Linked DNA regions of Homo sapiens. The protein of the gene in region 2 purifies or fractionates together with the protein of the main gene of each other region. This does not show direct contact. Each region holds a gene or a part of one and is shown on either strand. Other genes may lie near its edges.

What was found. The genes of interacting proteins can lie anywhere in the genome.
Region 1: the proteins of ACSBG2 (region 2) and CMSS1 purify together in Homo sapiens (affinity purification with mass spectrometry; 2 studies listed by BioGRID and IntAct, with this or other methods). This does not show direct contact.

The regions. Positions count from the first base shown.
Region 1 is NC_000003.12:100,170,862-100,177,861, forward strand, and holds part of CMSS1 (protein CMSS1), read left to right. Parts: intron 1-977; coding exon 978-1,038; intron 1,039-1,454; coding exon 1,455-1,542; intron 1,543-5,465; coding exon 5,466-5,554; intron 5,555-7,000.
Region 2 is NC_000019.10:6,186,687-6,194,259, reverse strand, and holds the end of ACSBG2 (long-chain-fatty-acid--CoA ligase ACSBG2), read right to left. Parts: intron 6,978-7,573; coding exon 6,838-6,977; intron 6,662-6,837; coding exon 6,415-6,661; intron 3,677-6,414; coding exon 3,603-3,676; 3' UTR 3,568-3,602; intron 1,593-3,567; coding exon of another isoform or gene 1,564-1,592; 3' UTR 1,169-1,563; downstream 1-1,168. UniProt on the Homo sapiens protein: Catalyzes the conversion of fatty acids such as long chain and very long-chain fatty acids to their active form acyl-CoAs for both synthesis of cellular lipids, and degradation via beta-oxidation.

The sequences.
Region 1 (7,000 bases), on a different chromosome or scaffold from region 2:
TAAAGTGACAACTCAAAGGCTAAGTTTACCCTACAAGTGTTTGGCACCTAAAAAATTTGTGAGTGACTTGCCCATATTTAAAATCAGATTGCACATATAAAAATCTAGATTTCTGGCTTCTCTAAAAATCAGAGAGTCTTAGGCCCATAGTCTCACATCATCATAACTGGCAAAGCTGAGCACTAGTTGACCCCTTTACGGGGGGCATCACTCTCAAGTGCCCCTCAGTCTTCACCCCTGCTTCCCAGATCACCTCATTTACAATAACCCCCTGCCCTCATAGCTTTAATTCAGCCAGTCCTTTGTGTCAGTGGTTTCTTCTTACTTTTTTTCCTTCCTTCTTTGCTTCCTCTTTCCCTTCCTTCCTTCCTTCTTTTCCTGCTTTTTGGCTGAAGCTTCATTTCCACCTATAAAATTTTATAGAGGAATTTAGTCTACAAAGTAGATAAGAAAGGACAGCTGTGATAGAAGGATAGAAGCCCCCCCTCTTCCCCCTTTCAAGCTCATCTCCTGGCTTCCCTCATGGCCACCACAGGCAGACCTTTGTAGATGCCCTTGGCTCCACAGAGAACGAGCTGACATCACCGCTCCAAGATATCTTTTGCAACCAAATTTTGTATGAGAACTGCACTGCATAGTTGGAAGATGAATTTTCTGCCAGGGACCTGAAATACAGGAATTCTGTATTACAAATGAAAGGCAGGTCATGTGTTTCAGTAATCAAGGAAGCCTAAGTAAGGTTGACCTTGTGTATGGCAGTGTAAAGCCAACCCAGATATGTGCCTGAATAAAAGGCCACCCCACTCTCATTGCAAAGATTGGCTAACCTGCAAATCTCAGAATTTGTATGTACATATGCACATATATACACACGTATGCACACATCCTTTGAATAAAGCAAGACATAATACTTAAGTAGTCATCGTGGCCTAGAATGAGTTGGTTTTCTTAAGCATTCACCTGCTTCTTTTCATTAGGTCGATGACAGCATTCAGAGGAGACGGCAAAGTTATAAAATTATTTGCAAAGCACATAAAGGTAAGCAAGGGCCTGTGTGATCCCTAAAGGCCTCTCCCAGACCTCAGCTTTTTTCCTTTCAACCTCTTCTCCTAATCTCCTTAGCACATATTTTATTGAGTTCCTTCCTTATGTAACATTTAACAACTTTTCTGGTTTTTTAAATTCTATGCTTCTGCATACCTACCTCCCCAGTATGGCAGTCGCTACTGCCATGCTCTGTCCCTGTATAGAACCTGAGGCTTGACCCTTTGATTCCTTGAAGATTACCAGTTTTCTAGGGATATGCTCATCTCTGCCCTGGAAGTCGACCCTACACAAGGGTAGCTCCATTTGTATTTCACTTTCTTAACTTTGAGATAAAATGTTCTAAATTGGTGTAAGATAGCACTTTCTTAATGACTTCCTTTTCTTTCTTCTCTTTCATCTTGGAACAGGTCCAGGCGCAGGTAAAGTTGCTGGAGAAGCGTGTGGTGCACCTGGGTGTAGGAACTCCGGGGAGAATTAAAGAACTTGTTAAACAAGGTATGACAAGAGGGCAGTGATACTCTTGCCCAGGGCTGGGAGTTTGCCTTACCTACATGTGAGTCTCAGAAACTAAATTCAGGATATACAAAAACCAGACCTCTGTGTTAATTCAGGAATTGGAAACTCAGCCTTTAATCTCTGAAACCAACCAGCAAGTATAGCACAATAGGGAATGATAAGGACTGTGGCAAACTGAAGTACGTGTGCCCACCTAAACAGAGTCAAATTCCAGCTGCTATAAGCAGGTTAGTGGTTCCACATAGCCTTCATTCCACCAGTGTGCAGCCACTGCTTGAGTTGAGCAGTTCCCTGTCACTCCACTGAGTCTTGGGGAGACTCCCATTTTGAGGGCTGGTATATAAAACATACTAAAACAAAAAACGTAGTTTCCATGAATGTAATGCAGGCATTCCATAATAGTTCTTCCCAAATGTGTTTCTCTTTTAGTGCTTTACAGAAAGTATTCTAGACAACATCCACTGGTGGGTTTTTATAGTTTGCCAACTTTCTCAAAGCCAGTAGCCTAAGAACCTGCTAACCTGCCAATTATCTTATTACCTCTTCTACCTACCAGGCAGATTGAATGATTTCTTTTCAATACTTATTTCCAAATTACTTATGTATTATATAATAGAGCTTTTTTTTTAAATAACTGTCTGGAGCTATTCTCAGATTATTTTATATATCTAAAAGTAATGTGTTCATCAGTGTAGTAACTCATTATAGAGATGGTCATTTGCCAGGGAGCAACAAAAGCTAAAACTACTGTTGTTTCTCTCCAGATGAAAATCATCCAGGGTTAGTTGAACCCACTATATGCAGAGTTTTGTACAAATACCAACAACTAACAAATTTGGCTGCCCCTGACAAGGAAGGGAAACAACACTTTCGAGTTCCTACTTGTACGCAGCGCTACGCTTGACACCCTTACATATGTTACCTCATTTAGCACTCACAGCATCCTTACAGGCTAGCCTTTTTATTTTTTATGAGAGAGAACTGAAGCTCAGAGGGTTAAGTCACCCTCCCCAAGGTCTGTCAGTCTAGGCTCTCCTGGTTCTAGAGCCTTTTCCCCTCAAGGAGCTCCTGATCCAGCTGAAGAACTAAGTGTACATAGACTGAGATCGATAGCATGAGGCAGTAAATGCCAAGAGCCAAATGAGCACTTCTAAGTCCTACAAGAGTTGAAATGAGAAAGAGATAGTTATGCTGGCCTGAATCTGCAGGGCAGGGTCTTTAACTGATCTTTGAAGTGTGGGGAGGATTGAAATAGGCCGGGAGGGTCAGAGGAAGCATTCATGAATGGGAGAACAGCCCAGTGAGATTCTCAGAAAGCAGGCACATGCACATGGTATATCACAAGGAATTGATGAGGAGGTAAAACAATGTTGCAGTTAAGAGCCCCTGTGATGGACTCAGACCTCCAGATTCAAATCCCAGGTCTAGCAACTTACCAGCTCTGTGACCTTGGCAAGTTACTTAACCCTTCTCAGCCTGTTTCTTTGTGCGAACAACAGGGATAGTAATAGTAGCTACTTAGAGGTTTGTTATAAAAACAAAATGCCAATAAAGAGCTCAGCACAGTAAGTGTCACACCCTAAACACTTAACAAATATTAGTTATTTATTAAAGAGACCAACTTTCTTGCTTGGAAACTTCGTGGGCTCTAGTAGCAGCTGATGTAACTGGAAAGAAATTTGAGGAAAGTCCTTGAACAGTAAGCTGAGGAGTTTGGATTTTTGTCTTGTGGACATCCTATGGCATTTGAAAGTTAAGGAACAGATGAGAGGCACCAAGGCCTTCTATGAGACACAGATTTGGGAGTAATTGGCTGGGTATCAGAAGCTAAGGATGGACTCTCAGGTTGGTTCCTGCCTCCCTAACAGCTTTTAGCTAAAGATTCACCACCAGCCCCTCCTGGAATCCAGATTTTTTTGTGTGTCACCAGACTTCCCCAGCCCCCACCCCATGCAACAGGATTACTCTTCTCTGTATTTAAAAGAAAGAGAGGAAGAGAAAAAGCAAAGCTATCCAGACTATTGAAATCAGATCTCTACAGAGTTGTGAGACCTCAATATGAAGGCTTATTTCATATGGAAAAATCATTTAAAGGGCGATTTTTAAAAAAATATTAATGAAAATAATTTTTACATCTGATTCTAATTGGATGAATGGTTTCATATTCATTAACCACAGGTATTTGCCTACATACAAAGTGTTTAAAGAGAATAGTCCCAGCACCCTAAAAGTGAAAAATCTAACAGAGTGACACCAATAGCATATATGTAGCTGTTTATGACTTAATAAGATGTTTATACGTTTGATATATAAGGAGAGTTTTCAGACATTGAAAGATATCCCATGACATTGGGATGTATACAATTACAGGCAATTGTGTTGTTTTAATTTAGTAATGAAGGGGATTTTCTGACTATAGGAGCCTTTGAAAATGCAAAAATGTACAGAGAAGAAAACAAGTCACTTTAGAAGCAATCTCTTGTTAATAATGAATGTATTTCCTTTGAGTCTTTTTTCTATACAATTTGTATGTTTATTTTTATACAACAGAGATTGATTATACTGCATCTCATAACTTTATAACCTACCTTTTTCACTTGCTATATCTCATGAGGACTTACCTTCCTTGTCATGAAGCACGTTTAATTTTTCATTTGTATAGCTACACTATTTACAATATTCTATTGTAAATTTATTTTTTTGCAATTCTATTATGGTAGACTTTGGGTTGTTTCTAAATTGTTGCTATTATAAATAATGTGGCAATGATCATTTTTGCAAGTAGCTATGTTTATGTTTCTGATGCTTCACTGGGATATGTCATAGAAGGAAATTTATTTTATCAAATAAAAGCATTTTGGCTGGGCACCGTGGCTCATGCCTATAATCCCGGCACTTTGGGATGCTGAGATGGGCAGATCACTTGAGGTCAGGAATTTGAGATCAAATAAAAGCATTTTGAAGCTGTTATAATATTATGCTCAGTTTCATTCCAGAGAGGCTGTACCTATTTGCTTTCCTGAGAGCAGTTATATTAAGGGAAGACTGATGATCAACTCATTGTCTTTTCCAGTTCACTATTTTTATTTTAATTTTGCAGAGAGTTTTTAATAACAGGCATTTGAATTATAAAAAGCATGAACAAGTATTAGGGGCAAAGAGGAAAATATTTAAATACTACAGGGAAAAGCTGAGGGGAAGTGCCACAGGAGAGGAAGGCTGCAGGTACTGTTAACACAAGAGACGTGGAACAGCTTGGAGCAGAGGCAAGAACTGACTCTATGCCCAACTGTGAGACATCTGAGGACTACACATTCCCTGAGGTCCCCTTCAGCCCTCACAGTCCATAATTGTCTTCTAGACAAACAGGAAAGCAGAGAATGGAGTCATTAAGTGATTTACCAACCTCATCGAAGGATAGCTGAATAGAGCCTATTCATCTCAACTTCCTTTTCTGCCTAAAAGGAACCACCCAACCCTGTCCTCATCTTTCTCCCCACTCACCTCCTGAGAGCCCTGCAGACTCCATGGACTCAACTCCTTTGAAAGGCAACTACCCCAAACTGCGGGATTTAACTTAGCAAATCCCTGTCAGGAATGAGACTATAGCCTCTGGGGCTTCATGAAATGGATGCCTGGCCAGCGTGTGAGCATTTGAGGAGCTTAGCAAGAGCAGTTTCTCTGCTTTCCTCAGGAGGAGTGATGAGATGATAAGAAGAGCAAGTCTCAGAGTGCTGCATTTGTTTTCCATCAGGGAAGGGCAGCACTTAATGTGCGGAGATTAGTTACTGGGGGAGAGGACAACATATGAGACAAAAAGTAACCCGGAGAATAAAAAATCATTTTAATAAGCTTATGTCATGAGGTCTTTACTACAGCAACTCTCTTCCTGTCTCTTTCAGGTGGCCTTAATTTGAGCCCCTTAAAATTTCTGGTTTTTGACTGGAACTGGAGAGATCAGAAGTTGAGGAGAATGATGGACATTCCCGAGGTACCACGTAACCAGCAGTTGCCTTTAATCATTTTTTCTCTATTTGAACTTGGTTCAAACACAGTAATAAAGTCTTTGACATGAGGAGCCAGCACATGTTAGATTTTGAAATGATTTCTATCTTTTTTAACTCTGAGCTAACTATAATTATAGAGGCCACCTCATCCCCTTACACATAATTGTATCCTTTCCATGTGTTTCATGGGAATCAGCTCTGTTGCTCCTTAAATGACCAATGGCCTCTCCTCACTAGGGACCATTTTGAGAAACAAGAAGATCTGAAGGACCTGCACTTCTCCTGTGCCTTTCTTTGTAGACACACTCGTCTTTATCTTTCATTCTTATATGTGCACTTTTGGCTCGGGTTAGGGGAGCAGGGGTACAAACTTGCCTCTGCCAGCATCTCCACATGGATTCCCAAGAACCCACTTACTTAATTTAGAAAGATATTTTGGTTCATGGGGTGGGGAAATTTTTTGATGTCTCAGTTGATCAGAATTGAATGACCGAATGCATTTATGGGCACAGTATTAGCTCATTATATATTTTTAAAAACAATCCATTATCATCATAATGTGAAAAAATTACTTTGCCACCTACCACGCTATTATGGGGCTAATTTTTCAATCTAGCCTGATGCTTCACAGTAGCTGTTAGGAAAAAAAATGATTACCAGTCACTAACCAAGAACAAATCATGGCAGTAACTATCAAAGAGGCTTGGAAATACTCTTCCAAACATGCTGAATGAATTAATTTATCACATAAAGCTATATCTCCAGATTGACCAAACCTGATTATAATTGATCAGTGAGTTATTTCAGACATCAGTTCAGGTTAAAAAACAATTTGCTCAGTTACACACACGCACATGCACACACACATACACAGTCGTGCATTTTGTCCCCTGACTTGACTGGTTTCTTAAAACTGGTTTAACAAATTTGATATCAGGCATGAGGCCATAGTTGATTATTTCAGTTATAATATTAAATTTGACTAATCTACTAAGTTTCTAATTCTAATAATGAGAAATGTCCAAAAACATCTTGTCACCCATAGTTATTTTTATTCTGTTGCTGTCATTCTCAGCAGTTATCCTAAGGCAATAAAATCCTATACTGAACTATTGTATATAATCTTGTTTACAGAAAGCACACTGTGGAGTCCTTGAAACACCTTTGTATAGCATTTTATTTTGAATGGCTGCAAACAAAAGGGCACTTTAATGAAACTAATGTTTTATATAGTACCTCCTCCTTCATTTATATAAATATTTTAATTCTGCCAGGCATGGCAGTGCACACCTGTAATCCTAGTGCTTTGGGAGGCCAAGGTGGGAGGATTACTTGAAGCCAGGAGTTCGAGACCCGCCTGGACAACAAAGCAAGACCCTGTCTCTACAAAACAATAATAATAATAGGCCAGGCACAGTGACTCACACCAG
Region 2 (7,573 bases):
AAATTTGCAAATATGGAATTGGCAGATAGTGAGGACCAACTGTACTAACTCATTAAAAAGTAAAAGCCCGCCAAATAGTTGAGGAGGGCCATTGATGTGGTTTGGATATTTGTCCCTGCCCAAATCTCATGTTGCACTGTAATCCCCTGTGCTGGAGGTGGGGCCTGGTGGAGGTGTTTGGGTCATGGCAGGGGGGCGGATCCCTCATGGCTTGGGGCTGTCTTCACGATAGTGTGTTCTCAAAAGATCTGGTCATTTAAAAATGTGTGGCACTCCCTCTGGCTTGCAACTGCTTTCGCCATGCGACATGCCTGCTCCCCTTTTGCCCTCCGCTATGATTGTGAGCTCCCTGAGGCTTCACCAGAAGCTGAACAGGCACCAGCACCATACTTTCTATAAAGCCTGTAGAACCATGAGCTAATTAATTAAACCTCTTTTCTTTATAAATGACCCCATCTCAGGTATTTCTTTATAACAGTGCAATAATGGCCTAGTACAGCAATCAAATATGACATTAGCCTTATCGGCATTGCATTAATTTTTTTTTTTTGCAAGGAGAATGTCATTTTAAATTTCTGGTGTATTTAAAAAATGGAACTCAAAAGGGTCTCTGGCCTGCCTCTGAGTATCTAGAAGCTTAAGAGACACTGGGAGTTTTGTTGCTCCTGATATGCTGTTTCTGTCCAGGCTGGGAGATGTTCCCTCTCCCACTCTCCCTACTAATATTTCGGAGACACACTATGAATATGCTTTATCAGCTCTGGTCTGCTTATAATATGACTGTTGGATGGGAGAGGAATAAACTATCTTCTTTAAGTTTACTTAACTTACTACAACAGAAAACTCCTCCCTAATGACGGAATTAGTCAAGAGTCATACCTTGACTCTTGAGTTAACCAAGAGTGACTGTGTTGATGATAACCATTAACTCAAACCGAGGACTTTCTGGAGTTAGATACTGCATTCCCTGTACATCATCTCCATGAACTTCCATGGCCACCCTCCGAGATGGGGATCTACTTTCCAGGTTTAAAATCTCCGAGCCTCAGACAGTTGAAATCACAGCTGGTCACAATTTGAACCCAGAACTGATTTCAGAGTCCAAGCCCTCCCCATCACACTAAATAAAGGACAAAGTATTTCTATCAAGCCAAAAATCAAGACATGGGACCCTGAAGTGCTTTATTATCAGGACTTATTGGAAGGGTTTCCCAGTTGCTTCCAGGCAGGTGAGTTGATTTGGGGGTCCAGTTCTTCAAATCTGTGAGGCTTTTTCTTTCTAATGTCTGAGTCCCCTGAGGAGAAAAAAATCAAATGGGAGCCCACAAGTTCAGGTCTTTCTTGTAAATCAGGCAGTTTTTAGTAGACTTCCCAATAGGCTTCCCTGGAGTCATGACTTGAAGGTCCTTAGAAAGATATACAGTGATTTTATTGCTTTGAAACGTATGGCAGGTTCTTCTAGGGAGCACCTCTCCAACAGACGAACAATCAAGAAACTGACCAATGAGGAATGTGGCTTCTTAAAAACAGCAGGGAGAGCTTCTACCTAGAGCAGCATTTCACTTATTGCAATGAGGTCTTCCTGCTGAAGGCTGCAAAGAGGAGAAACACAAGTTATCACATGGGGATTCTCGTAATATGTGCATTCAGTCTCCAAGATCCCACAGTCACCATATGATGAAAATATTCCCGAGTGAATCGATCCATTTATAAATTGGCTGTCACCCAAAATCTCCCCACAATGAACTTTAGAGTGGCACTATCCACAAGAAACATTACTGGAGCCACCTATGCAATTTAACAATGTATAGCAGCTACATTTTTAAAAAAGGAACTTGGCCAGGCACAGTGGCTCACACTTGTAATCACAGCACTTTGTGAAGCTGAAGCAGGAGGATCGCTTGAGGCCAGGAGTTTGAGACCAACCTGGGCAACATAGAAATACCTCATCTCTACAAAAACATTTAAAACATTAGGTATGAATGCACCACTGCACTCTAGCCTGAGCAACAGAGCAAGACCCTGTCTCTAAAAAGTAAATAAAAATTTAAAACTGGTAAAATTACTTTTAATAATAAATATTTTACGTAACCCGGTATTCCAAAATATCATCTCAACATGTAATCAAAATTTTAAAATACTGATGAGATATTGTATATTCTATTTTTTTTTTTTTTTTTTTTTTTTTGGTGCTGTGCTTTTGAAGCCCAGTGTGTTTTATGTATTACAGCACATCTTGGTTTGGACAGACCACATAGTGGCCAGTGGCTGCCATATTGGACAGCACTGGTGTAAGAGGGTCCATCTCTCACTCCCACATCAATGTCCAATGGTTTCTCATTCAACTGGAAAGTGAAATTGGAAATCTTGTGAAAGATGAAGAATTATGAATGTGGTACGTTGAACTGCTGGGCCCACCCACAAGACATCAACAAATGAAGGTGTGGAAGGGTTAAACCAGTTAACGTTGAACAAAGGACAATGGATATGATGAGTTACAAGCTGAGTTGTATCCCTCCACAATTCACATGTTGAAGTCCTAACCTTTAGTACTTCAGGGTGTAACTTATTTGGAAACTAGATCATTATAGAAGTTAAAACGAGGTCATAAGGGTGGGCCCTAATCTTACTAACCTGTCCCTATAAAAGGGAAATTTGAACACAGTGACACCCAGAGGGAAGATGATGTGAAGACAGAGAGAGAAGACAGCCATCAGCAAGCCAAGGAGAGAAGTCTGGAATGGATCCTCCCCTCACAGCCCTCAGAAGGAACCAAGCCAGCCAGCCTCTCAATCTCACACTTTTAGCCTCCAGATCTGTGAGACAATAAGTTTATGTTGTTTAAGCCCTCCAGTCTGTGGTACTTTGTAATGTAGCCCCAGCAAACTAAAACATGGGTTGGCTGGTGGCATTAGAACAAGTTGCCCATGAAAAGGTTACAGGCAGCCTATAGGACAATTGAAGATGCATTCTACTTTCTGCCTGCACTGTGCATCTAGTGAAGAAAAAAAAAAAAAACACCTCAATAACTATCAGTGATTCATGGTGTCATGGAGGCTCCCTCTGCACATGTCTTGGGGAAAAGAGAGGATAAACGGTGGATAGTGGAAGTTCAAGCCTCCATCCCTTATTATCTGTGTAATGGGCCAACACACCTCATTCCTTGAGTTCCTGGCAAGTAGAACTTTCTCCACTAAAGTTTCTGACAAAGGCCTTCTCCAAATAAGACCCAATGAGACATTTGGGATTCATTGCCTCCTACTTTCTAGAAACAAATAGAAAAGGCAGGAAGCACAGCTAACAACATTGGTGGCCAGCTGAAGGAGTTTACACACCCTACCATGACCCTGGTAGAGTAGAGACAGCATGAGTTGAAGCCTGCTACTCAGAATCCACTGCAACTAAGAGTGTGTGTGTGTGTGTGTGTGTGTGTGTGTGTGTGTGTGTATGTATGTGTGTATGTGTGTGTTTTCTGCAGTTCCAGTCACAGATCTGCCTGCCACACAGTGGAGCCCTCTCTTGGACTCTGAATGCATAGCCCAGCAAAGCCAAGCAACTGAATCTCACCATCAGAACAGCTGAGAGCAGCTCCATCAAAGCAGTCAGTGGTACATGTGATCAATTTGTTTTTTGTATTTCTGGGCTACAAAATGTCTCTTAAGTTTCATCATTGGACCTATCGAGAAAGGAGAAATCAATTGAGTTGTGGAGATAAAAGAAAATTACACACACCCATGCATGACCAGGCAACAGAGTCCCATGCCTGGGGCTAGGCTGGGTGGCTGGCTGTGCCATTGACTTTCAGGGTGTGTAACTTTTGCCATCTGTATGGGGATGATAAAACTTCCATGTGATCCTTCAGCTGTGGTGAGGATTCTGTGAGCTGGAAGGTGAAGAGCATGGTGCATTCTGTGCCTGATGTGGACTGTGCACCCAATGGAGGAGGGATATCATCATCTCAAACCATACCCCTATCCCCATTTTACAGGTGAGGAAACTGGGGCATAGAGAGGACCAGTTCCTCTGAGGTCAGCCAGCAAGTGCACGGCAGAATCAAGTCTCAAACTGGGAGTTGTCTGCTCCCTGAGCCCAGGACTTTCATTGAAAGCCTCTGAGTCACCAGGGGCATTGAAGCCCCTCTGGGTGTCTCAAGCAACCCCACAAGGACTGTGTTTTCAACTTATAGATGAGAAGACCACCAGCCTGGACAACATGGCAAAACACCATCTCTACAAAACAAAAAGAGGATAGCGGCCAGGCACGGTGGCTCACGCCTGTAATCCCAGCACTTTGGGAGGCCAAGGCGGGTTGATCACGAGGTCAAGAGATCAAGACCATCCTGGCCAAAATGGTGAAACCCTGTCTCTACTAAAAATACAAAAAATTAGCTGGACGTGGTGGCACGCACCTGTAGTCCCAGCTACTCGGGAGGCTGAGGCAGGAAAATCGCTTGAACCTGGGAAGTGGAGGTTGCAGTGAGCCGAGATTGCGCCACTGCACTCCAGCCTGGCGACAGAGTAAAACTCCGTCTCAAAAAAAAAAAAGAAAGAAAGAAAGAAAGAAAATAGCCACGCATGGTGGCGCGCACTCATCCCAGCTACTCAGGAGGCTGAGGTGGGAGGATCGCTTGAGCCTGGGAGTTCAAGGCTGCAGCAGCAAGCTGTGATTGTGCCATCGTACTCCAACCTGGGTAACAGAGCAAGACTCTGTCTCAAAACAAACAAAAAAAAAACAAGACTCAGTGGGACAAGTCACTTCCCTGTGTAGAGGGGACAGGATTTGAACCCAGGTTGTTCATTGCCACATACTTGCTCTGATTCTTCCATCCACACCGTCAGATTACAGCCGAGCGCTGACAGCAAACTCGCAAATGAAAGTACATTAGTAGAATCCAGTATCCCCACTCTGGAGTGAGCCCTTCCCTCATGGGGGAAGAGAGGCAAAAATAAAACATACAGAGACTAATTTCATGTTCTGATGCTTTAAAGAAGACAGGGTGGTATAATGGGGGTGGCAGCAAGCTACTGGGTGAAATATTAAGGACGATGGCAAGCCACTTTAGCCAGCATGGTCAGGGAGGGCTGAAACCATCCCTGAAAACTTTATAATATTAATCAGAGAAGAAGGGAGGGGGACAAACTAAAATCAGCCACACTTACAGCACACTCAACATTCATCATTAGGTCAGTTTGCTCTCTAACCCCTTCCTCATAGCTAGCTGTTTGCCTATTGCCCCAGAATCACACACACACAAAAAACCCAATCACAAGATATAGTTCCCCTTAACTGCTCTACAGATAACATATTAAGCATTGTGAAAGGTCAAGTTTTCCATCTGAGATATCCTTTCAAGTCCTGCATACCAGTGAAACTACTGATGCCCACTGATCTGAAGGACCCCACGGGAGCTGACTTACCAAAGAATGCAGCTTCCACATCCGATGATTTCATCCCCTTTACCTCAACCAATCAATGACTCTAATTTTCCAGCCCTTCACCCCCAAAGATCCCCTTAAAACCCCAGCCCAGAATTCCTCAAAGAGAGATTTGAGGGTTCCTTCCATCTCGGTTGGCTTCCCTGCAAGGGAATTTAATTTCCTTTTTTATTTTTGTTTGTTTGTTTTTTGTTTTTGAGACAGGGTCTCACTGCATTGCCTAGGCTGGAGTGCACTGGCATGATTGTGGCTCACTGCAGCCTTGACCTCCCTGGGCTCAAGCGATCCTCTCAGTCTCCTGAGTAGCTGGGCACCGCTACCATACCCAGCTAATTTTTGTATTTTGTGTAGAGTTAGGATTTCACCATGTTGCCCAGGTTGGTCTCAAACTCCTGGGCTCAAGCAGTCTGCCCAACTCAGCCTCCCAAAGTGTTGGGATTACAGGCGTGAGCCACTGTGCCTGGCCATAATTAAACTCTGTCTTTGCTGCATCCCCTGCTGTCTCAGTGTATTGGTATATTACTGTGCAGTGGGCATACAAACCTGGGGGTCCTGTAACAAGGCTGCTCTGAGGGGGAAGAGGCCTGTAGGGTGAGACCTGGACAATGAGAAGAAGCCATCCAGGCAAGGAATTGAGGGGGAAGGGTATTCCCAGGGAGGCAGACTGGCAGGTGCAAAGGCCCTATAGTTGGACAAAGCCCAGAGAGCTGCAGGAACATCAAGAAAGCCCATAGAGTTGGTGCAGAGTGAATGAAAGGTCAGCAGGCGAGAGATTGTATAGAGCTATAGTAAGGAGGTTGGATTTTATTTCCAAGATGAGGAGCTGGGGACCAGTTAGCTGAAGGTGGCAGCCTCCCTCTCCTGGTCCCTGGCTGGTTTCATAGACCCTCTGACCTTCAGAAAAGGACCTGTCTCTTCAGAGCCCACACAGTCCCAGATGCTAACAAGGGACCAGCCTCCAAATGTCATGGCCACTCACCTAGCTCTCCACCATAGATGGAAAAGTCCTTCTCCAAGATGACCCACTTTTCAATCCTCTGTGCATTGTTCATGGCTTCCTGGTTCACAGCATTGATGCCTTGCTGGATGGCCTTGTAGACCAGGGGGTCTTGCTGCTTCACAATCTCAGTCACGGTGGATGCCTGGCTGCCCAGACCCCGACAGAAGTTGATGGCCTCGAAGTTCAGCTTGTCCAGAGGTTCTCCGCTCATCTGATTCATCTCACACTGCCCCCAGACACCTCTGTCACCACCCATGCTCCTTGACCAGCACCCCTCCCCAGGCCCACAGACCAAGAAGTGGGTCTTGAACCCACAGATGCATCCTCTTGACCCTGGGGTGGGGCCAGGGAACCCAAGACCGGCTGCAGAGACTTCCCCCAATGACAGCAAACCCATGTTACCTTCAGCGTCAGCAACATGCTCAGAAACTTCAGTTTATCTCCTACTAACATGGCGTTACTGATGATGGGGATCTTCTTCTTAACCAAGGTCTCAACAGGAATGGGGGGCACATTTTCACCACCAGCAGTGATAAGGATTTCTGGAACAGAGCTTGGCTTGGTACATGTCCAGCCATGACAACGTGGAACCCCCAGTTTGAGACCAGCCTGGCCAACATGGTGAAACCCCGTCTCTACTAAATATACAAAAATTAGCCAGGTTTGGTGGTGTGCACCTGTAATCCCAGCTACTCGGGAGGTTGAGGCAGGAGAATCACTTGAACCTGGGAGGCGGAGGTTGCAGTGAGCTGAGATCATGCCACCGCACTCCAACCTGGGCAACAAGAGTGAAACACCATCTCAAAAAAAAAAAAAAAAAAACCTAGTGGCCAGGCACAGTGGCTCACACCTGTAATCCTGCCACTTTGGGAGGCTGAGGTGGGCAGATCACTTGAGCCCACAAGTGCTAGACCAACCTGGGCAACACAGTGAAATTGGGTCTCTGCAAAAAAATAGCCGGGTGTGGTGGCACACGCCTGTAGTCCTAGTTACTCAGGAGGCTGAGGTGGGAGAATCACCTGAGCCTGGGAAGTTGAGGCCACAGTGAGTCATAATTGGACCACTGCATTCCAGCCTGGCCAACAGAGCGAGACCTTCTCTGAAAAATAAAATAGTACCAGCACAGAGGAAAACTCAA